Linked DNA regions of Homo sapiens. The protein of the gene in region 6 interacts with the protein of the main gene of each other region in a biochemical or structural test. Each region holds a gene or a part of one and is shown on either strand. Other genes may lie near its edges. The genes, in order: CDC25C, USP9X, GEMIN5, CDC25A, BIRC2, MAP3K5 and LATS2.

Region 1 (3,500 bases), on a different chromosome or scaffold from region 6:
TGAGGTGGCTCCGGAGAGGCTAGATTTAACTTGGAACGACGGATGGCCTAAGGTTTAGATAAAAAGTACCATGGCCTCCTCGGAATAAGGGCTTAAAAGCTAGACTAAGGGGGAAATAAGAAATTAATCTACACTTGCATGTAAAGTGGTAAAAAAAAATCCATGAACAAGTTATGCAAGTTATCCCTACCTGTTAAAACAAACAAACAAACAAACAAAAAACTCCTAAATCCCTTACACTACAGTAAGGGTAATTTTTGTCCTCAAAATGATCAACTGAACATGAGAAATAATGATGACCTACTGTGGAAGATTTGGAGCTGGGTGTCTGTCCTAGGGCCAAACTTTAATAAGAAAAAACAAAAACAAAGAAATTTTCTCCCCTATAGTAATACAGTTTCCTTGTCTAGCATACGAGGTATAAACAGTTCTATGTCTCATTATGATACCAAGTTTCTTCACTCAAAAAATAAAACTGCCAATATATCTAGGTTTCCATTAAACACTCACATTTTCTTTATTTGCAGATGAACTACACATTGCATCTCTCTTTCTATGGCCACGGTCCAAACCATTCGGAGTGCTACAAAGAAGCTGTGCCTAAAAAAGAGAGTTTGCTGAGAACGTCCAGCATCCTCAAGCCACAGGTGCAATGGAAACCCTCTGCCTCCCACCTGAAAAGCAAAACAAAACCCAAAAAAAGAGAGGCTACTCACTGGGCTACATTTCATTAGGTGCTGGTCATGATTCCTGCAGATTAAAACAAACTGCCTGTCAGGTTAGTCCCAAATACTGTTTGATTATTCTTCAGTGGATTGGTGCATCCCAACATTTTTCTATTTCATTCTAGGAGCCCTATTCCTAGTTGATATGTCTCTTCCAACAACAATACATAGGGTATTCTCTGTGGTAAATATCAAGACTCAAGTGACATCCTGGGGATAAGACCCTCATTTTGCCTGCATAACCATATAACATGTTCCAAAGATGAACGAGTTTTATACAATTTACAATTTACTAATTTTCCAGCACAGTGTATTGGGGCTAATTTTTTTTTTTTGAGACGGAATCTGGCTCTGTCACTCAGGCTGGAGTGGCACGACCTCGGCTCACAGCAAGCTCTGCCTCCCGGTTTCACGCCATTCTCCTGCCTCAGCCTCCTGAGTAGCTGGGACTACAGGCGCCTGCAACCACATTCAGCTAATTTTTTGTATTTTTAGTAGAGATGGGGTTTCACCGTGTTAGCCAGGACGGTCTTGATCTCCTGACCTCGTGATCCGCCCGCCTCAGCCTCCCAAACTTCTGGGATTACAGATGTGAGCCACCGCACCCGGCCGGGGCTAACTTTTTAAAAAAATTTAATTTCTGGCGGGGCGCTGTGGCCCACGCCTGTAATCCCAGCACTTTGGGAGTTCGAGGCAGGCGGATCACCTGAGGTTGGGAGTTCGCAACCAGCCTGACCAACACAGAGAAACCCGTCTCTACTAAAAATACAAAATTAGCCAGGCATGGTGGCGCATGCCTGTAATCCCAGCTACTTGGGAGCCTGAGGCAGGAGAATCGCTTGAACCCGGGAGGGAGAGGTTGTGGTGAGCCGAGATCGCGCCATTGCACTTAAGCCTAGGCAACAAGAGCAAAACTCCGTCTCAAAAAAAAAAAAAAAAAAAAAAGGCTGGGCGCGGGGGCTCACGCTTGTAATTCCAGCACTTTGGGAGGCCAAGGCGGGCGGATCACGAGGTCAAGAGATAGAGACCGTCCTGGCCAACATGGTGAAACCCTGTCTCTACTAAAAATACAAAAATTAGCTGGGCGTCGTGGCATGTGCCTGTAGTCCCAGCCTCTCAGGAGTCCGAGGCAGGAGAATCACTTGAACCCGGGAGGCGGAGGTTGTAGTGAGCCAAAATCGCACCACTGCACTCCATCCTGGCAACAGAGCGAGACTCCATCTCAAAAAAAAAAAAAAATTAATTTCTATCCTCCCTCCATGGATTTCATTATCTATCTGGGTTAGAGCATTTAAAGCAATTCAAGCTGGGCCCAGTGACTCACATCTGTAATCCCAGGACTTTGGGAGGCCAAGGGGTGGGTGGGGGTGGGGCGCTGATCACTTGAGGTCAGGAGTTCAAGACCAGCCTGGCCAACATGGTGAAGCCTCCATTTTTGTATTACTAAAATACAAAAATTAGCCGGGCGTGGTGGTGGACGCCTGTAATCCCAGCTACTCGGGAGGCTGAGGCAGGAGAATCGCTTGAACCCAGGGAGGCAGAGGTTGCAGTAAGTCAAGATGGCACCACTGCACTCCATCCTTGGCAACAGAGCCAGACTCCATCTCAAAAATAAAAATAAATACATAAGTAAAATGCTTGGTATGTGCTAGATACACAGTTTATTTACTCCTTACAATAGCTACTTTATGAGAAATGCTATTATTGTCTCCACGTTACAAATAAAAAAAATTAAGGTCCAATGAAGTTAAAAAAAACTTGTCAGAGTCACAACTGGTGAATGAAGTAGTAAGCCAGGAATCCACACACTGATTCCAGAGCTTATACTCTGTACTTTCTTTTTTTTTTTTTTTCTGAGACGGAGTCTCGCTCTGTCGCCCAGGCTGGAGGGCAGTGGCGCAGTCTTGGCTCACTGCAACCTCCGCCTCCTGGGCTCAAGTAATTCTCCTACCTCAACCTCCGAAGTAGCTGCGATTACAGGCATGTGCCACCACATCCAGCTAATTTTTGTATTTTTAGTAGAGACGGGGTTTCACCATGTTGGGCAGGCTGGTCTTGAACTGCTGACCTCAACTGATCCGCCTGCCTTGGCCTCCCAAAGTGCTGGGATTACAGATGTAAGCCACCGTGTCCGGCCACTCTGTACTTTCAATTACTAAGATACAGCACCTTTCACATACAAATAAAAGCCTATACATAAGTGTAGTATACCATTTTCCTTCATTTCCTTATAGATACTTCTGATTATGATGGTTAAAATGAATAGCCTTCATTTTCACAACACTATTTAGATGTGGAAAACTTAGAAACTGTTCAAGGTAAGGAACTAGGCCTCAAAGCCCACTTATACCCAGTATGAAAGGTTTTGTACTCTGCAGAGTCTGCACAGGATAAAATCTCTATGACCAGTGCTAAAAGGCTTTTGTGTGGGGTTCATTTAACAACAGAACTTACATCCCAGCTAAATGCACTTCCTGAAGTCCTGAAGAATCCAGGTGACCTGCAATCAAATATAAAGAATCAGTAAAAGGAGTTATTCTTGTCCATGCATCCTGTTTTTCCTTCAGATTTTCTTCATTACCAGTAAGCCGTATTAATTTCAAGGACTGAGCTTTTGAATACAAAGCCTCTCGATTGGTACCCATTTCATGGTACAAGGTACAATTTCACAGAAACGTAAGAATTTATATGTGTCACTAAAAGAAATCAAGTGTTGGGAAACACTACACTATGCTACCTATGGAGTTTTTTTTTTTCTTATGGGTAGAAAAGAAA
Region 2 (3,500 bases), on a different chromosome or scaffold from region 6:
TGGAAGTGGTTGTTTCTAAGGATAAAAAAGGAACAATACCGCAGATGACACATGACCCATATTATAGTCCAGGTATAGGCAAACATTTTCTGTAAAGGGCCAGGAAAGTTAAGCAGTTTAGGCTTGTGAACCATATGGCCTCTGCCACAACTCCTGGGCGGTGCTATTTTAAGACAAAAGCAGTCATGTAGACTGAATGTAAACAAATGAGCCTGGTTTTGATCATGGACACTAAAATTTAAACTTCATATAATTTTCATGTATCACAAAATATTATTCTTCTAGATTTTTTTTTTGTAGCCACTTAAAAATATAGCTCTTGGGATGCACAAAAACAAGCAGGGGGCTTGATGTGGCTTGTGGGCTGTCATCTGTCAACTCTTGTTATAGTCTATACCAAAAAGCACGGTCCATTTAGAAACAGAATTTGCTAATATACTCCTTTATTGTCCAGCAAGTACTTGATCATCATTTAAAAATTCTTACCTGGCGGCATAAGTTTCATAAGTACTCTTGCTCCATCTCTAAGGGGTGGCATATTTAGGCTGCTACCTAAGTCTGCAACTTGCCAAAGAAAAGAGATGTATCTGGGATGCAGTGACATTATCTAGAATATAAAATACACAAAATAATTACCTCTAAATTATTTACTCCCGTTTTATAAAAGCCCAAGTAAGTTTCTCTGTGTTAATCCCTATACTTTTACTTATGAAATTTCTACTCTTTGAAATAGTCTGACTTTCCCATCTTTTAATCCCTACAAATCCTTAATAGTGCAGATCAAATACATCATCAAGTCACTTCCAGTCATTTTTTTGTGATAGCTCCTCTCCTGTTCTATTAAACCATTTCTCTCATATATACAATTTAGACTCTGGACATAACAAAAGGCTGCCATGCCCACTACCAAATTCTTAATCCAGTTGTTATAGAGAGCCAAATCCTCCTGACACTGGAGTGGCTGCTACTATTGTAACCATTAAAATTTCTGTCGGGAGGGGCGAAAGGAGAGCTTAAAAATATTTCTTTGGCTATATGTTACTGACAATCTGATAAAGATTACAGGTATTTTCCTACATAGTTCTTGTTTTCATTTATTTATATTTTTAGAGATGGGGTCTCACTCTGTTGACCAGGCTAGAGCATAATGGCACAATCGCAGCTCACTGCAGCCTAGAACTCCTGGGCTCAAGCAATCCTCCTGCCTCACAGCCTCCCCAGTAGCTGGAATTACAGGTGTGAGCCACCATGCCCAGCTCATATATAGTTCTAAAAGAACTATCCGTTTTGTGGTATAAATTTTAGAAAGTGATACAGCTGACTCTTGAACAACACAAGTTTGAACTGCACAGGTCCATTTACATGCAGACTTTTTTCCCAATCAAATGTGGACAGAAAATTCAGTATTTCCAGCAAGCAAAACCCAAGTATATGGAAGGCTAACTTTTTGTATATCTGGTTGCACAGGGTCATCTGCAGCATTTTGGGTATATGCAGAGGTCCTGGAACCAATTCTCCACGTATACGAGGGATGACTGTTTTCCTCTAAATTTATACATCCAATAGTGTTATAATTAAGCTCTAATTGGTTAATTTTATGTAAAAGTAACAATACTATACCTATGGGGAAATTATGTTTTAAATTCCAACTGTGTTACAATTACCTTTTAGAGGGATCCATTCTGAAGTTGGTGGTTAACTGTATTTTTTTGTCTCATTAAACTGTAAGCTCCTCAAGAAAAGAAAGAACCACTCTATATACTTTATTCTCAAAAACCCTAGCATGATGCCTTACATACAGTAGTTCAAAACTGTATCTACTCACCACTCCAGGCAAACAGCTTTCCACTTCTGGATTGGGACCATCACTGTAATGATTACCATGGTTTCCAGGAGATCCAGTGGAGGAATCAGAAGAGCTATCAGGGCTTGAAGGCATATTGGAACTTATCTGTGTAAGTTTGGCTGTAATAAGCTGAAAATTATATACTATGTTAATATCAAAAACAAGGAAAAATACTTACACAAAACACAAAACTTAGTGATATACCAACCAAAAAATCCGAAAGACTACATGCTATACTTTAATGCTATAACTCTAACACCTAACACAGTCCCAAACATAACAAATGCTCAATTAGTATTTACTGATTAAACGATAGTCTCTGGTTTGATTTTATTGAAAAATCTGTTAACTATACATACATACCGATTTATCTTTTAAGTTTAATTGTCCAATCAACTTTCTATCATCTGCAGGATCTATCAGCTCACCGCCCACAAAGAGCTCAATTTTTGTATGGGCTACGTTGGCTTTAATACGATTGAGAATACATCGTCGTACTGAACCAATTGTATCATTTGTATGAGACCATACCTCCAAGTCATCAACCTGTCTGCCCTGGTTTGGAAATCGAACTACAAAAGAGAGGTGTTTACCGCGGAATGCTCTGGGGGGAAAAAGAAAGACAGACATCATCATATTCAGCAGACTCTGAAATTTTGTTGCCAAGAAAATAATGCTGGGGATTTAACACTAAGTATTTTCTTATTAAACAAGAGGATGTGAATTAAAGATACTTAATACAGCTTGAGAATCCCTTATATGAAATGTCTGGGACCAGACAAATTTTGGATTTCTTGGATTAGGGATACTCAACCTGTATTACTTTCAGTATCTTGAAAATAAGGCCAGGCATGGTGCCTCATGCCTATAATCCCAGCACTTTGGGAGGCCGAGGCGGGTGGATCACTTGAGGTCAGTAGTTCGAGATCAGCCTGGCCAACATGGTAAAACTCCATCTCTACTAAAAATACAGAAAATAAGCCAGGCTTGGTGGTGGGCGCCTGTAATCCCAGCTACTTGGGAGGCTGAGGCTGGAGAATCGCTTGAACCTGGGAGGCAAAGGTTGCAGTGATCCGAGACTGCACCACTGCACTCCAGCCTGGGCAACAAGAGTGAAATGCAAAAGAAAAAAAAATATTGCTCCTTTTAACTAAAAATATAAATAATATTTAAAAACATAATCATATTCTATTGTTGTTAGTCTTGTATCTATGGTTGCAGAAAATGAGGTGTCTACTAAAATGAAATTAAATCCAAGATATAACGCTTATTTTTATGCTGTAAAAGCCCAACTCACTAAGACTATTTTTAAATGTAAAAGGTTGGCTGGACGCAGTGGCTCATGCCTGTAATCCTACCACTTTGGGAGGCCAAGCAAAGAAGATCCCTTGAGCCCAGGAGTTCAAGACCAGCCTCGACAACATAGGTAGACCTTGTATTAATAAAAAAAAAAATTCAAAAAAAGAAGGTAGAGTTTACCTTTTACATTTAAAAGGTCGTTTTACATTTTGTTAAAAGCATCAACAAAAATGCCACAATGCACTTTATTTTTTTTCTGGAAAAAAGCCTTCATATCAAAATTCACTCCAAAATGCTATTTATATTGGTATAGTACCTTTTTTAAAGTAAAATACAAAATAAAAATCATATTCAA
Region 3 (3,500 bases), on a different chromosome or scaffold from region 6:
ACTTTGGACTCAGGAATAAAAGCATAATGGGCCAAAGGTGCTGGAATAGACAAGCTTTGCAGATCCAAGAGCTGGGACAGGCATTAGGAGCCATGTCCAAATAGGTTTAATAGAGGAAGCTGGCTGGGAGAGAAGAAAACAGAAGCACAGAGAAGGCCTAGAAAATCTACTTTCACTAGATTTTTAGTTGCCATGAGATTCCTTGTGTACTCCTATAACAATATCTTCTCAGTTAAGCTTGCAAGAGTCTCTGTTGCACAAAACCAAAATAGCCCTTATCAGAATATTTAGCATATGCTTATTAGGTTTTTTTGCTTTGTTAAGGATGCTGTTTAAGAGAAAAATAAAATGCTAAACAGTCATTCTGGAAACTTTTTTTGATGGTGGATAAATTAAAATCTTTCTAGACTTGGTCATTTTATAAATAATGCCCAGTGGCATTATCTTTTAGGGTGTCCTATTTTCACCTCCATTTTTATTCTGCTGTTCCTAGAAAGCTACCTCCCCATGTACCACGTTCCTTGGGCTCTAAATATTCAGCTAAAAACCATCTGTAGGCCCTGTACTCTGTTAGAGAATGAAGAACTTAAAAAACCTCTTGTTAGTATCTCACAAAGTTATCTAAAGTGAATCAAATGTTTACATGTTTCAGAAACTAGGTAAGTGTGCCAATGCTTTAATCTGTTTTGATGTGTCAAAAAGGCAGTGGTATGTTACTGATTTTTAATCAGATGGGAACAAAAAAATTTAAGAAATAAAGAGATTTCCATTTTCCCACACTTTTCTCTTTTTTTTCTGAAGAGTCTCACTCTGTCACGTAGGCTGCAGTGCAGTGACACAATCTTGGTTCATTGCAACCTCTGCCTCCTGGGTTCAAGCAATTCTCCTGCCTTAGCCTCTCAAGTAGCCAAATTACAGATGTGTGCCACCATGCCTGGCTAATTTTTTTATTTTTAGTAGAGACAAGATTTCGCCATGTTGGCCAGGCTGGTCTTGAACTCCTAATCTCAAGCGATCTGCTGCATCTGGCCCAGTTTTTTTTCCATAGCTTACAGTTAAGAGGGGCATTTACAGGTAGAGTTCCATGATTTCTGTTAGAGGCCAACCATTCTCTCTTCAAGGAAGACAGTGCTGATAACATCAATGAAGAAACCCTAGACTGCCAACCCAAGGCCTGGGCTGACTAAGGTGTTTTTTTTTGTGTTTTTTTTTTTTTTTTTGAGACAGAGTCCCACTATGTTGCCCAGGCTGGATCTTGGCTCGCTGCAACCTCCGCCTTCCGGGTTCAAGTGATTCTCCTGCCTCAGCCTCCCAAGTAAGCTAGGATTACAGAAGCGTGCCACCACGCTCGGCTAATTTTTGTATTTTTAGTTGAAACGGGGTTTCACCATGTTGTCCAGGCTTGTCTCAAACTCCTGACCTCAAGTGATCTGCCTGCCTCGGCCTCCCAAAGTGCTGGGATTACAGGCATGAGCCACTGTGCCCGGCTCACAGGTGTTTTGTACAAACAGATAAGCAATGGGAATTACTGTGAATGACCATATTATCTCTTACTCTGAATACGGCAACTAACAAGTCATAGTACTTCAGTGGGATAGCATGGCCAGGGCTTGCTGGGCCTGCCAAATTGGCACAGCTTGTGCAACTGGGTTATTAACTTGGATTTGACTAGAAAAGGATTTGGGACACTTCCCTCTTGTATACTAGGAGATGAAATAACAGACTGACCTGTAGACTTTCATGCAGCTGCAGGGCTTCCTGGGCTCCCACCCAGTTGTTGGCCAGAAGCAGCTCTTGGGCACATCTGAGAGCCAGGGAAGCAGACAACTCATCCTCTCCTACGATGGCAGCCAACTCTGCAGCCGTTCTAAGTGATGCCGCATCCCCCTTTTTGGCCAAAACTTTGGCTGCATCATAAGCACAAGTGGCCCCTAAATAGCTATAATATGAATAAAAATGTGAAGAAAATGTCACAAACAGATTTTTATTCCCATTCCTAGAGGATGGAATCATTTCTTTCTATCTACTTTGCTGCATGTGCCTTCCTGTGGTCCCAGGTATGTCACTGCCCCGGTTGTTCCTGTGAAGGCTGAGGCCAACACAACTCAGCAGAGTGTATGAGAAACAATATCATATAGGTTAAGGACATAAGGAAAATGAGAGGGAATGACTCCTCTGTTGGGTTCAATCCAGCATGGGTTGAGGTTCCTTTATTTGATGTTATAAGAGACCATTAGAAAAATGCATAATTTCTTAATCTGCTGCTGAGGTTTTTCTTGAATAGTTATAGTGATTTATATAAATAAATCAGGAAGTAGTTCCTGATGAGTCTTATGAAACTAAGTTGAATATACATATCTTTTAAATAATTCCTTGCTGCTTTACCTCCACCTCTAAACTTATTACTTGTATTCTTGTCCTCCCCTTCCTGGCAGAAGCTCTCCTATGTTGGAAGCATCCCTCCACTCCTCAGGCTTACCATTTGGCAGCTACAGCATAGTGGCCATCTCTTTCTAGGACGGTTCCCCAGCTGAGGTACAAGTCCTTCAGGACTGGGTCCTCCGGGCGCAGCCGGGCCTTGGCAATCGCAATAGCTTCCCTAAAGGCAAGAACAGACCCTTTAGCCAATCTGAAAAGGCTCCTCTGTGTATGGTCCTAGGAGGGGCTGTAAGACAGGACAAACTGTCCCTTTTGTGTTGTCTTATTGTTCCAACTTCCTTTAAAAACTGCACTTGCATTATATAGACAAATTAGAAACATATGCTGCATTCGTTTCTTCACTTAGATCAGCAGTTCTTAAATTGTGGTCTGTGGATTCCTAGGGGGTCCTCAAGAACCTTTCAGAGGGTTCATGAGGTTAAAACTATTTTCGTAACAATGCTAAGAGTCAGTTATGTGCTTTTTTATTAAAAAAAAAAAAATGTGTTGACATTTGCACTGATTGTGCCAAAGCAGTGATTGGGAAACCTGGCATCTAAGAAGGAAGGCGGTGGCTCTTACAGTGGAAAAAAAGGAAGAATGCCCTTAATGAAGCAGTAAAAATTACAAATTTTACTAAATCCGTCAAGTCCAAAACACTTTAATATTCTGTGTGACAAATGGGAAGAACATTTTGTGTTCTCTGCTGCATTCCAAAGTAGAATGGTTGTCTCTAGGTAACACCTGTATGAACAAATTACAAGCTAAACTGGCTGCTTTTTCATAGAACCTTCTTTCTTCTAAAAAAAAAAAAAATGACTAACATAAATAACAGTTATTCAGTGTTGGGTATTTGGCAGATGTTTTTCTCAAAAATGAACAAAGTAGGCCTATCACTTCATTAAAAACAACCAACAGTATTTGTTACTAATGATAAAATGCGAGTTTTCTAGCAAAAATTAGAATTTTAGAAAACTTGTACCTACCACTTGTGTGCCTGAGTTTCCCATAAGTTAGAATTTTCTGATGAGACTGATGGTGATAGTAAGGAATGTGGTATTTTTGGGTATTTTATAATAAGA
Region 4 (3,500 bases), on a different chromosome or scaffold from region 6:
GAGAAAACTAGACCTTGCAGGTTAAGGAATGTGCCCAAAATATTGAAGTAAAACAGGACAACTCCAGAGTGAGAGCTCTTTAACCACCATCTATGCTGTTTTCCCTTTAAAACAAAGCTCCAGGCAAGCAACCCTGAGAAGCTATTTCGGGGGAAAACCAGGCATCAGTACAGCTTTGCCCTGGTAAAAAGCACTAGAGGCTGATACACTGTTCCAAGCACTCAAGGCTGGAACTCATTTCCATATTCTTTCTCATGACACTTCCCAGGTTGATAAAGAAATCATCAGGAGAGTTCATGGAGGCAGTGGGTTTCACACTAAACCTGAAGATTGTAAGGACAAGGATTATGAACTGTGGCATTTCAGCAGGAATGGAAAAGGGGAGAAAGTAAATATATAGAAATACAGTAGAGAGAAGGCTGAAAAAATTACAACTGTTTTGGATGCCTACTCTGTGCAATGTCTAAAAGAACAAAAAAGCCAGGCTCATTCAGGGTAGATAACCAGAAATTCACCTTCCAAGCCACCATTTCAGTTACTCTGAGATTCCCTAGAACTTGTTGACCCCGTTCTTACAAATACTGCCAAAGAGCCTTTTCCTAAGCTTACAATTCATTTCAGGGTCAGAGCAAAGAGGCAAGGACAGCCTGGGCAGAGCCTTCCAGACAAACACTATTTGTACATGTAATTACTCCTGTGAGCTACAATCTGAGCAACTCCCGCCTGTCAGGCACCATTTTCAATACTTCATACATAATCTTACTTATTGCCACAACATCCCTAAAAGGTATTACTACTCCTATTTTACAAAAGAGCAAAGATTAAAAAGAGAAGAATTTGCCAACATCACACAGCTAGTAAGCAGGATCCAAACCCAGAATTCTCTGACTCCAAAGACCGCACATAATGGCCAAGTTTAGTCTCCCAGAAAGCAGCCCAGCCACTTCTAAGCCACTGACAGCCTGTGGGTTTCACCTCTGCCTCAGGTTAGTACATTGAAGTCACACTCACATTTTCCTTGTTCTCATCTGGGTCGATGAGCTGAAAGATGTCATGGTCAAGAGAATCAGAATGGCTCCTCTTCAGAGCTGGACTACATCCCAACAGCTTCTGCTATCAAAGTAAAAAAGGAAAATAATTAAGGCACACAAATAAAATTTCAGTGGAAAATTCAGTTCTCAAAAGAAAAAAAAGGGGGGTTGAATAGGGGGTAGACTAGCTCCTCACACACTGCAGTAGGTAACCAGTAAATGTGGCCAGGAATCCACCTTGCCAGGACACAGCCAGGACACAGCATAGAAGTTTCCATTCCATGGGTTTACAGCTAACCTCACAAGGTCTACAGTGCCCCCCTCAACAGGGATTACAGTGCCAAATCAATCCCCAAATAACATTTGCATCAAAAGAACCCTTCCTGGTTTAATAAAGCTCTGTTAGAGATGGAGGACAAATTCCTCCAGACCGAACATCTTGAGTACTTATGAGACTAAGGAAAGGCTGGGAATAGTGGCTCTTGCCTATAATCCTAGCACTTTGGGAGGCCGAGGCAGGAGTTTGAAACCAGCCTGGGCAACAGAGTGAGACCCCCATGTCTACAAAAAATACAAAAATCAGCCGGGTGTGATGGTGTGCACCTATATATAGTCCCAGCTCCTCTGGAAGTTGAGGTGGGAGGATCACTTGAGCCAGGGAAGCAGAGGTTGCAGTGAGCCAAGATTTTGCCACTGCACTCCAGCCTGGGTGACAGAGCAAGACCTTGTCTCAAAAGAGACTAAAGAAAAGCAGTTTTTACTCTCTAAATTAAGTCTCCTATCAAGGTCATGCTGGTAGCTAAGGAACAGATAACAGGTATTAGCTCAAAATAAACAAGGAACTAACTTACAGGTAGGGAATGTATTCTTCTCATAGGATTTTCAAGGCTGTAATGAGATCAGAAGGTAAATAATGAGAATAAAACAAGTAAAGAGGTATTCATATTAGCAGAGAGATAGTGTTTAGCCTGTAGCTTGGGGGTACAGTCACAGACTCCCATTTTAGGCAAGAGATGGGAGAATAAATTTCTGAAGCTGTCCTGTTCTCAGGAGCACCCCCAACACTAGACTTCTAGGTGAAAAAAAACAAACCCATGTCTTTTCTTAAAATACACACATTCGGCTGGGCGCGGTGGCTCACACATGTAATCCCAGCACTATGGGCACTATGGGAGGCCGAGGAGGGTATATCACGAGGTCAGGAGTCTCGAACTCCTGGCCTGGCCAACACGATGAAACCTCGTGTCTACTAAAAATACAAAAATTAACCGGGTGTGGTGGTGCACTCCTGTAGTCCCAGCTACTCGGGAGGCTGAGGCAGGAGAATCAGTTGAACCTGGGAGGTGGAGGTTGCAGTGAGCCACTGCACTCTAGCCTGGGCGGCAGAGTGAGACTCTGCCTCAGAAACAAACAAACAAACAAACAAAAAAACCCCACATGTTCTTGTAAGGCTATGATGTCAGAGCACAGAGTAAGGGTTTGGGTAAGACCCAAACAGAACACCAAAATTATAGCTAAAATAAAGGAGAAAAAGTTCTGAAAATTGCTGACACAAACTATTCATTCTTGAGATTCCAGAGTGTTTCTAGGCACAGGTAAATCCAGGGCTCCAGTCCAGTGTATGAAGAACTTCATTTAAATAAGGTATTTAAGTTTAGACACGTTTTTTCTACATATAAACATTTGAAAGCAGTGAATACATACTTTTCTTTACTGTCCAATGGCCCAGGAGAATCTAGACAGAAACCTATGGGGAAAAAAAAAACCTCTCAAGAAATAATACAAAAAACACCATTTTGTCATTAAAATTAAAACACTAAACAAAGTACCTGGGTCTTTATTTAAGTCAGGCAACAAATATTCATGGCTTGTACTTTTGCCAGAATTGATGTTACGTCTATTAGATTGTCAAAAATGTCATGTTTGTACAAGTCTTAATATTTTCATAGCGTATTTACTGTTTTTTCTCCTATTTGCAAATAACATCAAGGGAAATAGGATTTGAGAAGAGGGTGAATAAAACTGATTCATATCATGATTGTTTGGTTATTCAGATAGAGGTGACCCAGATAACTTTCTGTGAGTTCCAACCATAGAAACAATAGGTACCAGATTTTCTTGGCATAGTTTTTAAACGTTTTACCTTGTCAAATCATATGAGGCTTGAAAAATACAACTACTGACCAGGCACAGTGGCTCACACCTGTGATTCCAATACTTTGGGAGGCTGAGGCAGGCTGATGGCTTGAGGCCACAAGTTCAAAACAAGCCTGGGGCAACATAGTGAGACTTGACTCTACCAAAGTTAAAAAAAAAATTAGTTGGGTGTGGTGGCACGTGTCTGTAGTCCCAGCTACTTGGGGAGGCTGGAGTGGGAGGTTCGCTTGAGCTCGGAAAGTTGAAGCTACAGTGAACCCTGATTGTGCCACTGTACACCAGCCTGAGACCTGGAAAACAGAGCAAGACCCT
Region 5 (3,500 bases), on a different chromosome or scaffold from region 6:
TATGCAGGTTAAAATATAGACTATTTTTCTTTAAGAGAGAAATGTACGAACAGTACCCTTGATTATACCCCTGCAAATAGGGCATTTTCTTAGAGAAGGGGCACATTCCTGGCATACTACCAGATGACCACAAGGAATAAATACAACAGAAACTTCTTTGTCCATACACACTTTACAAGTTCGTTCTTCTTGCAACCTCCTCAATTGTTCTTCCAGTGACAGACCTAATAACAAAAAATAACTTTAGTGAAATTGTTTCCACTTCATTAAAAAAAAAGGGTAATAGTTCATGTTGGTTTTAAATCTTTGTTTTACCTGAAACATCTTCTGTTGGAATATACTTCATATTCTTATCCACTGAGGAAAGAAAACATAAAAACCATTACTCTACTAAATACAAAACTGAGCCACCGCATCTGGCCAGTCCTAAGAATTTCTAAAATAATTTTCCCAACAAACTCACCAAATAAGTTCTTATACAATGTAGAGTCAATTTCTTTTAGACAGTTTTTGAAGATGTTGGCCGCAGCATTTCCTTTAACCAAAATGGTATCAATCAGTTCTCTCGCTTGTAAAGGTATCTGTGTTTTTTGTTTAATAATATCATGTTCCTGTTTATTAATTACATTGGCCTTTAAAAGATTATCCAGGATAGGAAGCACACATGTCAATTGTTGAAAGAGAGCCATTCTGTTCTTCCGAATTAATGACAAATCATCTTCATTAAAAAAAGAAAAAGAAATCCATTAGATTTTAAACTCCTTTAACTATACTCATATAGTCACTAATAACCAACCCTACAAACAATTTAGGCACTAAATAAAGTTCAAAAAAGAACAAAGTAACTTGTTTGCATTTGTAAGTTTGTTGTTTGGAAAACTTCCAGAGGAAGTCTCTGTTTAATTTTTAAGTCTATATATTTACATGTCCTAGAACTCCGCTTTTACTTTATTTTGTTGCAAGAGATTTGTAGAAGACAGTAAAAATTTCCCCCCACCATATATAATAATACTCTTGTATTTCCATTATATCATTTTACTTTTGTAAGCACTTTCATAGTAATTTGTCTCATTTGATACAGTGATCCTGTCAATTAAACAAGGCGAGTATTACTGCCTCTCATTTTTACATAGGGAGAAAAAAGACTCAGAAAAGAATGAGTGGCCTAAGATCACAAGAAAGAATAAGCTGCAGAACCAGGCATCCTAGACCAGTGTTCTTTTCAACACCCCATACTTAAGACGTGGTATTGTAGTATTGTAGGGTTTGAGTTGCCAAGTCAAAACAGACCTAGGTTCCAGTGTTGGCTAGGCCCACTCACTAGCTATGTGTCCTCATCCTTCCCCATACACCTCAGTTTCCTCATCTGTAAAATATACATAACGGTACCTTCCTCAAAGTTGTAAGGATTGAATAATACATGTAAAGCATCTGGCACAATATGTGGTACATAGTTAACTACCATTATTATTTTATAAATGTCTATGTTTATAGCAATTAAAAAAAACTACCTAAGAATCAAGCCTGACCTTTTTTTAAAAAGCCAATGTTTTTCCTTTAATATCGCATCACATAAAACTCCACAGTTAATTTATATTTATGGAATATGGTAGTTCCTTCTTTTGGTATCTGAATCATTATAAAATTTGTCTATTTTCAGACTTTCAAAAAAATTTAAAAAGTACATCTCTACAAAGTACCAGTTTAATGAGAAATAAATTATAAAAACAGAAGCCTATCTTCTTTCCCCTTTTACATCTCTCTAGAAGTGAACTGCTCTATTAATCTCAAAACTATAAAATTCCATTCTGTGACAACTTTTTCTTCTACCTAAATAATTCCTCTCACTGCTAACCAATTTGTTCTTCACCTTTTCAAGATCTCCATGTCATTCCCAATTCTACTTGCACAAGAGCTATCTCCTGGCTTTGCTTCAAACCTCCTATTCTAATCTAGGTAGCAGTCAGGTATTTCAATGAAGTTCTCTATATTAGCACCCTTAACTCATCTTCCGTATTCCTTACTTGCCCTTTCCCCTATTAACACTGCCAAATCTGTAATTCAATACTATTTTCCAACCCATACAAAGTATGAGAAAGTCATAAATCTAAGGTGACAGTGATTTCATATAACCTTAGCTGGATTTCATTACTACTTAACAATCCTTAAATTGACTTTTCTTAGGCCCTTTCTTTCACCAAGTCCCTCCCACTTCCCAAGTCAATCTACCTAATGCTTAAAAAAAAAAAAAAATTGACGTGCTAGGAGCTGTGTTAAAGTGTTTTATTTGCAATATCTCATTTAATTCCTACAGCAACCCTATGGGAGTCATACTATTATTATCCCCATTTTACAGATGAGAAAGCCGATGTCTGGTTGAATAAATAGCCAAGCTAGTAACTGATAGAACTGGAATTTTTTTTTTTTTTTTTTTGAGATGGAGTCTGGCTCTGTCACCCAGGCTGGAGTGCAGGGGCACGATCTCGGCTCACTGCAAGCTCTGCCTCCCGGGTTCACGCCATTCTCCTGCCTCAGCCTCCCGAATAGCTGGGACTACAGGCATCCGCCACCATGCCCGGCTAATTTTTTGTATTTTTAGTCAAGACGGGGTTTCATCGTGTTAGCCAGGATGGTCTCAATTTCCTGACCTTGTGATCCGCCCGTCTTGGCCTCCCAAAGTGCTGGGATTACAGGCATGAGCCACCGCGCCCAGCCTGGAGCTAGAATTTAAACACAAATCTGTTTCAATGTAGAAGTCCAGACTTTAAATATTTTGCTACACGGTCATGCAATAAGGTACTCTTAAGTTATTCCTGTCTTTACTTACAAGCTTAAAAAGAAAGCATCTTCCAACGCAATACTCCAATACATATGCAACCTTCGCCTCTCTGCTGGCCCTTTAACCCTGTCTTTTGCACACTAGTCTCGCCAGCTAGTGTATATACTCCTTGACAGCAACCACTGTGATTAGGCACAGTATTTGGCACTGGTGCTCATGCTCAACAAATATTTATTGAAGGAGGGGAGGAGCCAAGATGGCCGAATAGGAACAGCTCCGGTGTACAGCTCCCAGCGTGAGCGACGCACAAGACGGGTGATTTCTGCATTTCCATCTGAGGTACCGGGTTCATCTCACTAGGGAGTGCCAGACAGTGGGCGCAGGCCAGTGGGTGCGCGCACCGTGTGCAAACCGAAGCAGGGCAAGGCATTGCCACACTTGGGAAGCCCAAGGGGTCAAGGAGTTCCCTTTCCGAGTCAAAGAAAGGGGTAACGGACGCACCTGGAAAATCGGGTCACTCCCACCCGAATATTGCGCTTTTCAGACTGGCTTAAAAAACGGCGAACCAAGAGATTATATCCCACACCTGGCTCGGAGGGTCCTACGCCCACGGAGTCTCGCTGATTGCTAGCACAGCAGTCTGAGATCAAACTGCAAGGCAGCAGCGAGGCTGGGGGAGGGGCGCCCGCCATTGCCCAGGCTTGATTAGGTAAACAAAGCA
Region 6 (3,500 bases):
ATTTATTGAGTATAACACCATCATGAACTCAATTAAAGCATTTGTTTAAGGCAGCTTCAGAATATCTGCATGGACTTAGTCTGCATCTTATTCAAAAAAATTCTTCCAGTTGATTTTCACTTACTAATATAGAAATATTGGTTATTAGAGCCCTCAAAAATATCATTGTCCAACTAACTCAGTTTACTCAGAGCAGCTAAGAGCTAGAGAGCTCTGTCCAGAACTACAAAGCTAATTAGAGACCCAGCCTGGGAAGATACTCAGACTTTTTGATATTTGCCTGGTGCTCTTTCCATAGTGACAACAGAAAGAAAAGTGGTACCTTAGTCTCAAGCATTTTAAGTCATCACGTGTAACATAGTAGAGAACATCCAATAGTGTATAATCTTCAGCCAAAAACTGTAGAGAAAGTAGAATATGCACAAAAGATGTTTTATATAACTTTAATAAAGCACAAACTCTATTCATAATGTAAACCTTGACTATAATTAAAAATGAATCTAAAAATGAAATCTACTAAAAACACAATCTTCCAGGATTATTAGGGGAAAGGCCTCCCTGTTACTCAATAAATACAAAGAAATGCATCCAGGCCGGGCGCAGTGGCTCACGCCTGTAACCCTAGCACTTTAGGAGGCTGAGGCAGGCGGATCATCTGAGGTCAGGAGTTCGAGACCAGCCTGGCCAAAGTGGTGAAACCCCATCTCTACTAAAAATACAAAAAATTAGCTGGGCGTGGTGGCGTATGCCTGTAATCCCAGCTACTTGGGAGGCTGAGGCAGGAGAATCGCTTGAACCCGGGAGGCAGAGGTTGCAGTGAGCTGAGATTGACCCACTGCACTCCAGCCTGGGCGACAGAGTGAGACTCCGTCTCAAAAAAACAAAAACAAAAACAAAAACAAAAACAAAAACAAGAAATGCATCCATATTAACTTCCAAATGCAAAAAGATTACAAGTGACACAGAACTTCTGAATGGTCTTCTAATGAACAGATGAGACTCACTTGTAATCACTCTGCTGTTCAAAAGCAAATCTTGTATTTAGAAGTTCAATGCTACATAGCTTTGTTTTTCCTCAAGTGGATAAAAAGTGTTCCTGGAAAGGTACTGCCTATGCTTAATTTCTGAACTTATTTTTTCATGGTTAAGCAAAGGCACTTGACTGTAATTCACCATAAAAGCAGAGTCTTAATTTAAACTGCACCTTTATATTTTTAAATTTTATTTATTTTTTTATATATAGAGACAGTCTCACTATATTGACCAGCCTAATCTCCAACACGTGGCCTCAAGCAATCTGCCTATGCTTCCCAAAGTATTGGGATTACAGGCAGGAGCCACTGCACCTGGCCTCAAGCTTTTACTTTTAAACCAAATAAAAAGGGTGATTATTTAGTAGATTATCAATTACTATTCCTTAATTAGGATTTGAGCCTAAGTTAGAGGAATGTATATTCTGGAGTTGTTTAAATTTATTCAGCTGTAACTTGTTAAATGTAGATTTCTAAGGCGGCCCGAAATTCTACTTAGTTAATAAATTATCAAGTCAAAAGAAGAGATATCTTTATTCTTATTTATTTTTAAAATTTAAATATAAAACAAAACAATATTGTATTAAGAGGGTCTTTCTATCAAATATTACAATGTTTTAATGTATGCCTGTGTGTTCATATAATGAACATAAACAAATGCTATTCACGCTCATTACAAAAGTCTATAGGGGCTGGGCGCAGTGGCTCACACTTGTAATCTCAGCACTTTGGGAGGCTGAGGTGGGCAGATCACTTGAGGCCAGGGTTCGAGACCACCCTGGCCAATATGGTGAAACCCTGTTTCTACTAAAAGTACAAAAATTAGCCAGGCTTAGTGGCATATGCCTGTAATCCCAGCTACTTGAGAGGCTGAGGCAGGGAATCTCTCGAGCCTGGCAGGCAAAGATTGCAGTGAGCTGAGATCGCACCACAGCATTGCAGCCTGGGCGACAGAGTGAGATTGTGTCTCAAAAAACAAAATCAAAAAAAGTCTATACAGAGCAGAGAGGAATTAGATTATTACAGGTAAAATATGGTTTGTATAGAAAATATTTCTGAAATAAGTCGACCAGATTGATTTTATTAAGTAGCAATAAAATAGCTGCTGCCCAGTGGAATCTAATAATGTTGAAAAAGAATTAAAAATTTAACAAACAGGCCTGGCGTGGTGGTTCATGCCTGTAGCCCCAGTACTCTGAGAGGCTGAGGTGAGAGAATCGCTTGGGGCCAGGAGTTTAAGACCAGCCTGGGCAACATAGCGAGACCCTATCTCTAAATTTTTTTTTTAATTAGCTGGGTATGATGGTTCATGTCTGTAGTCCCAACTATTCAGGAGGCTAAGGTGGGAGGATCACTTGAGCCCAGCAGGTCAAGGCTGCAGGGAGCTATGATCACTGCCCTCCAGCCAGGGTAACAGAGCGAGACCTTGTCTCCAAAAAAATATAAAATAAAATAAAATAAAATAAAATAAAATAAAATAAAATAAAAATTAACATACAAAGAATTAGAAACAAGAAATTTTTTCTTTTAGTCCTGTCTTTATTTTTTTCCCACTCTTTCTGGTTTTCATTTCAAATACATAAAATTCCTAAGGGGCTCAGGACCACAGAGCTTTTGCCTGCCTCGTTGGATTGTACACACTGCAGCCCCACTGCACAAGGTTCTTCCCTGGTCTCCCTCCCACACCCCTCCTGAACATACATACAATTGGCCTATTTATACCCTCACATTCTGTTAGCCTTCAGCTCTTTCATTCCCTTCTCCAACAACCTTCCCCAACCTCTCTCGCCCTATCTAATAAACACCTGATACCTTTTTCTTCATAGAATTTACCAGTGTAGAATCACATTTGTATCTGTGGAGTTAGCTGATTATCACGTGCCTACCCTGGTCTGTAAGCCTCAGGAGGGCAGGGCTGGGTCTGATTTGCTCACCAGTGTATCCCCTGTGCCTGTCACATAGCAGGCACCCAACATTATGAAACGAAGTGAAAGAATACTTGTCCCACAGACAGTTTTCTTTACCCGGCTTATAGTGTCTTCATCAGCTCCATTCACTCTCAGCCAGTCGGTAAGTTCAGAATCTTCAGTATTTGTGCCAGAAGAATTTAGATGAAATACAGGCAATTCAGGAATTTCTAGAACAGAATTTTGGGAAGATATTCTTAATTTCACCTAACAGAGGTCATCTGAGACCCTCACAATCAACAGACATTTATTGATACTTTAAAAGATTTTGCTCTATCAGAGAACAGTTCATAGAAACAATTGAGATTGGCAGTATAGATGATAATATGAATAAAACTCAGAGAAGTGAATTTACTAGTAAATAAGGAGCAAAAGCAATAATGAAATGACACTCCTACGTTACACTTTCATATCAATTTTATGGTTTCTTAGAATAAACTCTGTGCACCAAAATTAGACTTTGTGTTTTTCATGCAATAAAGATGAATACAATTAGCAGAGA
Region 7 (3,500 bases), on a different chromosome or scaffold from region 6:
CTTCAGACAGTGTATTTTAAGCTTTAGTTTGAAGACAGTTGATTTCATGGCCAAATTATGAACTTTTGAAAGAATTTTCATGAGAATACTCATCAGTCAAGACTGCAGCTGGAAATGAACAACTCTGACATATTACTATACCATTTTAATGAGACTTCACATACGGGAAATTTTTCTTTCATCAAGAGTTTTATAAATATGACCCTCATGGATGTGGACTTTAAAAAAAATGGGGATATCAAGCAAAGTAAATCTAACTTTGGAAATTTCTTTGGCATCACCAATTGATTCACACACATTTTAAGTAACAAACTACAAACACTGGAATTTTAAAACCATAACAACTCACAAAACAAAAACACCTCATTCTCTAAATCCAGAGCTGAGACAACTACTAAATCCCATGCTTAATATAGGTGGCCTGTGTAAACAATGTGAGAGCAAAATTTTAAGCATGCCTTTAATTTGGTCCTACCAAACCCAATTCCAACCCTCAATCCAATCCTGGAAAATGCTATCAGATGTTCAAGAATTTTTATTCTAATTTATCCTAGTGCTTCACAAACCCACACTGGCTGCCAAACACACATCAAGCACCAACCAAGGAACCAACCAAACCAATGTCTCATGGGACCTGCGCTAATGACACATGTTGGCATTTTCTGAAGCAGGATTTCTTGAACCTAAAATTCCAGCTATTATTTAAATCATATCCCTACTATAATTAACTAGCAAAGCTGAAACTAAATCAGGCAGACGGGCCAGGCCTCCAGCCAGATGCTAAATGTCAGAATCATAAACCACTATGTGGATGTACCACACCAGCACTGTCAAGCCAGGAAGCCACAGGCCAAGGGCTACCTCTCATAATGAGGGTCTTTGAGGAAGGCAGTGATTGCATTCCTCTGGGGATCCAGGAAAACACACTTTAGAAGAATTCCCACTCTCCAATAGCAGCATCATCACAAGGCCTCAGAGAATTTGGCATTGCCATATGTGTACTGAGCATTGTGCTGGACACTATAAGGTCTCACCTAGGTAGAATTGGGTCTTTTTTTTTGGTGGGGGGGGCAGGGTCTCACTCTGGTTGCCCAGGCTGGAGTGCAGTGGCAAGATCTGAGGGGGAGTTTCGCCATGAGATGGGGTTTCGCCATGTCACCCAAGCTCGTCTCGAATTCCTGGACTCAAGTGATCCCCCCGCCTCGGCCTCCCAAAGTGCTGGAATTACGGGCATGAGCCACCATGCCCAGCCAGAGTATCACTTCTACATAAGCTTACAGTCTCGGGGAAAAAGACACCATCACATTCTCTATTAGACAGCTTTGTACATTATATTTTTATGATATACATTATGCAAATATAAATGGCATAAAAAAATTGAGCTACAGAAGTCTGTACTCAAGATATCACAACAGAGTGACCAAGTTGCAGATACATTATTAGTTCTTTGCAGCTTTCCTAATAGCAAGCGACCCAACAGGATGGGCCATCTTATATTCAATTTCATAGCCCAGCAGGGGTTCTCAATCGTTAAGAAAGCCTTGCCTCCTCTGCACCCCTCCAAGTTTTGGATACGCTCCAGCTAGGGAGTTAGAACACCCCTCCCATTTGAGAATCACTGCTATGGACTGAAGTAATAAATACTGTGACTGTCCAAAGAATCCCTGCCTACTTCCATGGAGGAGCACAATTCTTCAGGAAGGTGTTGAGATTATTTGGAGAAGGTATCTTAGAGAAAGGGATGTTTCACCAAAATTAGAAAGACTGGAAGGGCTATGATTTGATGGAGGAAGTGTGAAGCTATTCTTGGAGCCTGGAACTTCCAATGAAAAGGCTCAAACGTGGGAGAGAAAGATGAACAAAACAGCCAAAAAATGTTGGGGAGGGTGCAGGTGTCGTCCGGGTACATTTAATGAGAAAAATGAGTGAGACTCCCGAGTAAGAATGGAGTTAACTAGTAATGAACCATGTTGGCCCTTAGCATTCCTGCTCAAGATAACTGCCTAGAGGCAGGGAGGCTCACTATTCCAAACAGAGGCCCACTCCTTTCAAAATCCAGCTTACATTCTTAAGATCCTTACCATCCTAACTGATCAAGGGTCTATAGGATCTAAACTACACTACAAGATTCTAACAATCAGTGTTAACAAGAAATACAAACCATGGCTACAAAATATGGGATTTTTTCATTTTTCTCCCAGAAAAATTCCCATGTATGTCAAATATTGTCACACAAACAAAAAGTATTTGTGAATTAACTTAAAACACTTGTCACAATTAACTTGACATGATCTAGATGATAACCAACAAAGTCTTCCCAGGGTGAACGGCAAACATTAAACAATGCCAAATTTCCATTCTAATTTTAACATCATAACCAATGTCTTTATTTCCAATATTACCTTGCTGTTTTCATACTTTCAAAATAAAACTAATAATCACGTAACAGGCCGGGCGCGGTGGCTCATGCCTGTAGGCGGGTGGATCACGAGGTCAGGAGATCGAGACCATCCTGGCTACTACGGTGAAACCCCGTCTCTACTAAAAGTAAAAAAAAAAAAAAATTAGCTGGGCATGGTGGCGGGCGCCTGTAGTCCCAGCTACTCAGGAGGCTGAGGCAGGAGAATGGTGTGAACCCAGGAGGAGGAGCTTGCAGTGAGCCAAGATTGTGCCACTGCACTCCAGCCTGGGTGACAGAGCGAGACTCCATCTCAAAAATAAAAAAAAAATGAAAAATAAAAATCACGTAACATTATGTAACATTAGCCTTAAAATACTGAGAGAACAGCTAACAGTGAAATGAACATCCCAAGCAGGGCTGCCCTCACACTGGGGCCATCACAGGGCACTCTATGTAATAAAGCCCATTACAGAGAGCAGCAGTGACCTAGCATACAATGGGAACGATGCCCCTGGACTTGTGTAATTTGAAGGCCGATTCCTTCTAGAGGAATTACTAAGCAATAGACTTTTTAAAAGGAAGAAGATTCAGAGAATGTTTAGAGCTAGAAGTCAGTCACTTCAATCAAGCCTTACCCTTCTTTCTGATCATCAGAATATTTCGGTACTTTTTAGAACAGATTTAGTCAAGACAGAGTCAATGCATTTGAATTTACCTTCTGTATTTCTTCACACCAACTGTTTTTAAAAAGTCAGTAAGAAATACTGTTCAGAAGTTTCACAAGATTTTAACTACAAAATAAAATACAAAAGCAGCTTTTCGAAAATGGTGTTGGTATGGTTTTTCCAATACAAAAAAGAACACCTCTCCCCTAACCCCAGCTTCCCGAAATCCTTCCTCTGTTTATGGTCAATTTATCAGCTTCAATCCCCACCCTACCCCACCCCTTGGTGGAGTTTAGGAGCCCAAGGCTGGCTATTTACAACATAGCATTTAAAATAACAAGGAATCTTATTGTAAAATCATTCCCCTCCCACCAAAAGAAAGCCCCTCCCACCAACCCTGTGATTTGCTAAGGAACATGTACAGCTCCAATTTA

What was found.
Region 1: of the proteins of MAP3K5 (region 6) and CDC25C, one has a biochemical effect on the other in vitro, tested with the Homo sapiens proteins (one study listed by BioGRID).
Region 2: of the proteins of MAP3K5 (region 6) and USP9X, one has a biochemical effect on the other in vitro, tested with the Homo sapiens proteins (one study listed by BioGRID).
Region 3: the proteins of MAP3K5 (region 6) and GEMIN5 form a complex in vitro, tested with the Homo sapiens proteins (one study listed by BioGRID).
Region 4: the proteins of MAP3K5 (region 6) and CDC25A form a complex in vitro, tested with the Homo sapiens proteins (one study listed by BioGRID).
Region 5: the proteins of MAP3K5 (region 6) and BIRC2 form a complex in vitro, tested with the Homo sapiens proteins (one study listed by BioGRID).
Region 7: the proteins of MAP3K5 (region 6) and LATS2 form a complex in vitro, tested with the Homo sapiens proteins (one study listed by BioGRID).

The regions. Positions count from the first base shown.
Region 1 is NC_000005.10:138,325,305-138,328,804, forward strand, and holds part of CDC25C (M-phase inducer phosphatase 3), read right to left. Parts: intron 3,226-3,500; coding exon 3,180-3,225; intron 751-3,179; coding exon 717-750; intron 601-716; coding exon 511-600; intron 1-510. UniProt on the Homo sapiens protein: Functions as a dosage-dependent inducer in mitotic control. Tyrosine protein phosphatase required for progression of the cell cycle. When phosphorylated, highly effective in activating G2 cells into prophase.
Region 2 is NC_000023.11:41,168,945-41,172,444, reverse strand, and holds part of USP9X (ubiquitin carboxyl-terminal hydrolase 9X), read right to left. Parts: intron 2,451-3,500; coding exon 2,210-2,450; intron 1,976-2,209; coding exon 1,826-1,975; intron 608-1,825; coding exon 487-607; intron 1-486.
Region 3 is NC_000005.10:154,896,712-154,900,211, forward strand, and holds part of GEMIN5 (gem-associated protein 5), read right to left. Parts: intron 2,600-3,500; coding exon 2,480-2,599; intron 1,940-2,479; coding exon 1,729-1,939; intron 1-1,728. UniProt on the Homo sapiens protein: The SMN complex catalyzes the assembly of small nuclear ribonucleoproteins (snRNPs), the building blocks of the spliceosome, and thereby plays an important role in the splicing of cellular pre-mRNAs.
Region 4 is NC_000003.12:48,181,918-48,185,417, forward strand, and holds part of CDC25A (M-phase inducer phosphatase 1), read right to left. Parts: intron 2,779-3,500; coding exon 2,736-2,778; intron 1,920-2,735; coding exon 1,883-1,919; intron 1,114-1,882; coding exon 1,012-1,113; intron 1-1,011. UniProt on the Homo sapiens protein: Tyrosine protein phosphatase which functions as a dosage-dependent inducer of mitotic progression. Directly dephosphorylates CDK1 and stimulates its kinase activity. Also dephosphorylates CDK2 in complex with cyclin-E, in vitro.
Region 5 is NC_000011.10:102,374,714-102,378,213, reverse strand, and holds part of BIRC2 (baculoviral IAP repeat-containing protein 2), read right to left. Parts: intron 719-3,500; coding exon 464-718; intron 358-463; coding exon 316-357; intron 225-315; coding exon 31-224; 3' UTR 1-30. UniProt on the Homo sapiens protein: Multi-functional protein which regulates not only caspases and apoptosis, but also modulates inflammatory signaling and immunity, mitogenic kinase signaling, and cell proliferation, as well as cell invasion and metastasis.
Region 6 is NC_000006.12:136,558,478-136,561,977, forward strand, and holds part of MAP3K5 (mitogen-activated protein kinase kinase kinase 5), read right to left. Parts: intron 3,169-3,500; coding exon 3,056-3,168; intron 400-3,055; coding exon 323-399; intron 1-322. UniProt on the Homo sapiens protein: Serine/threonine kinase which acts as an essential component of the MAP kinase signal transduction pathway. Plays an important role in the cascades of cellular responses evoked by changes in the environment.
Region 7 is NC_000013.11:21,055,087-21,058,586, forward strand, and holds part of LATS2 (serine/threonine-protein kinase LATS2), read right to left. Parts: intron 1-3,500. UniProt on the Homo sapiens protein: Negative regulator of YAP1 in the Hippo signaling pathway that plays a pivotal role in organ size control and tumor suppression by restricting proliferation and promoting apoptosis.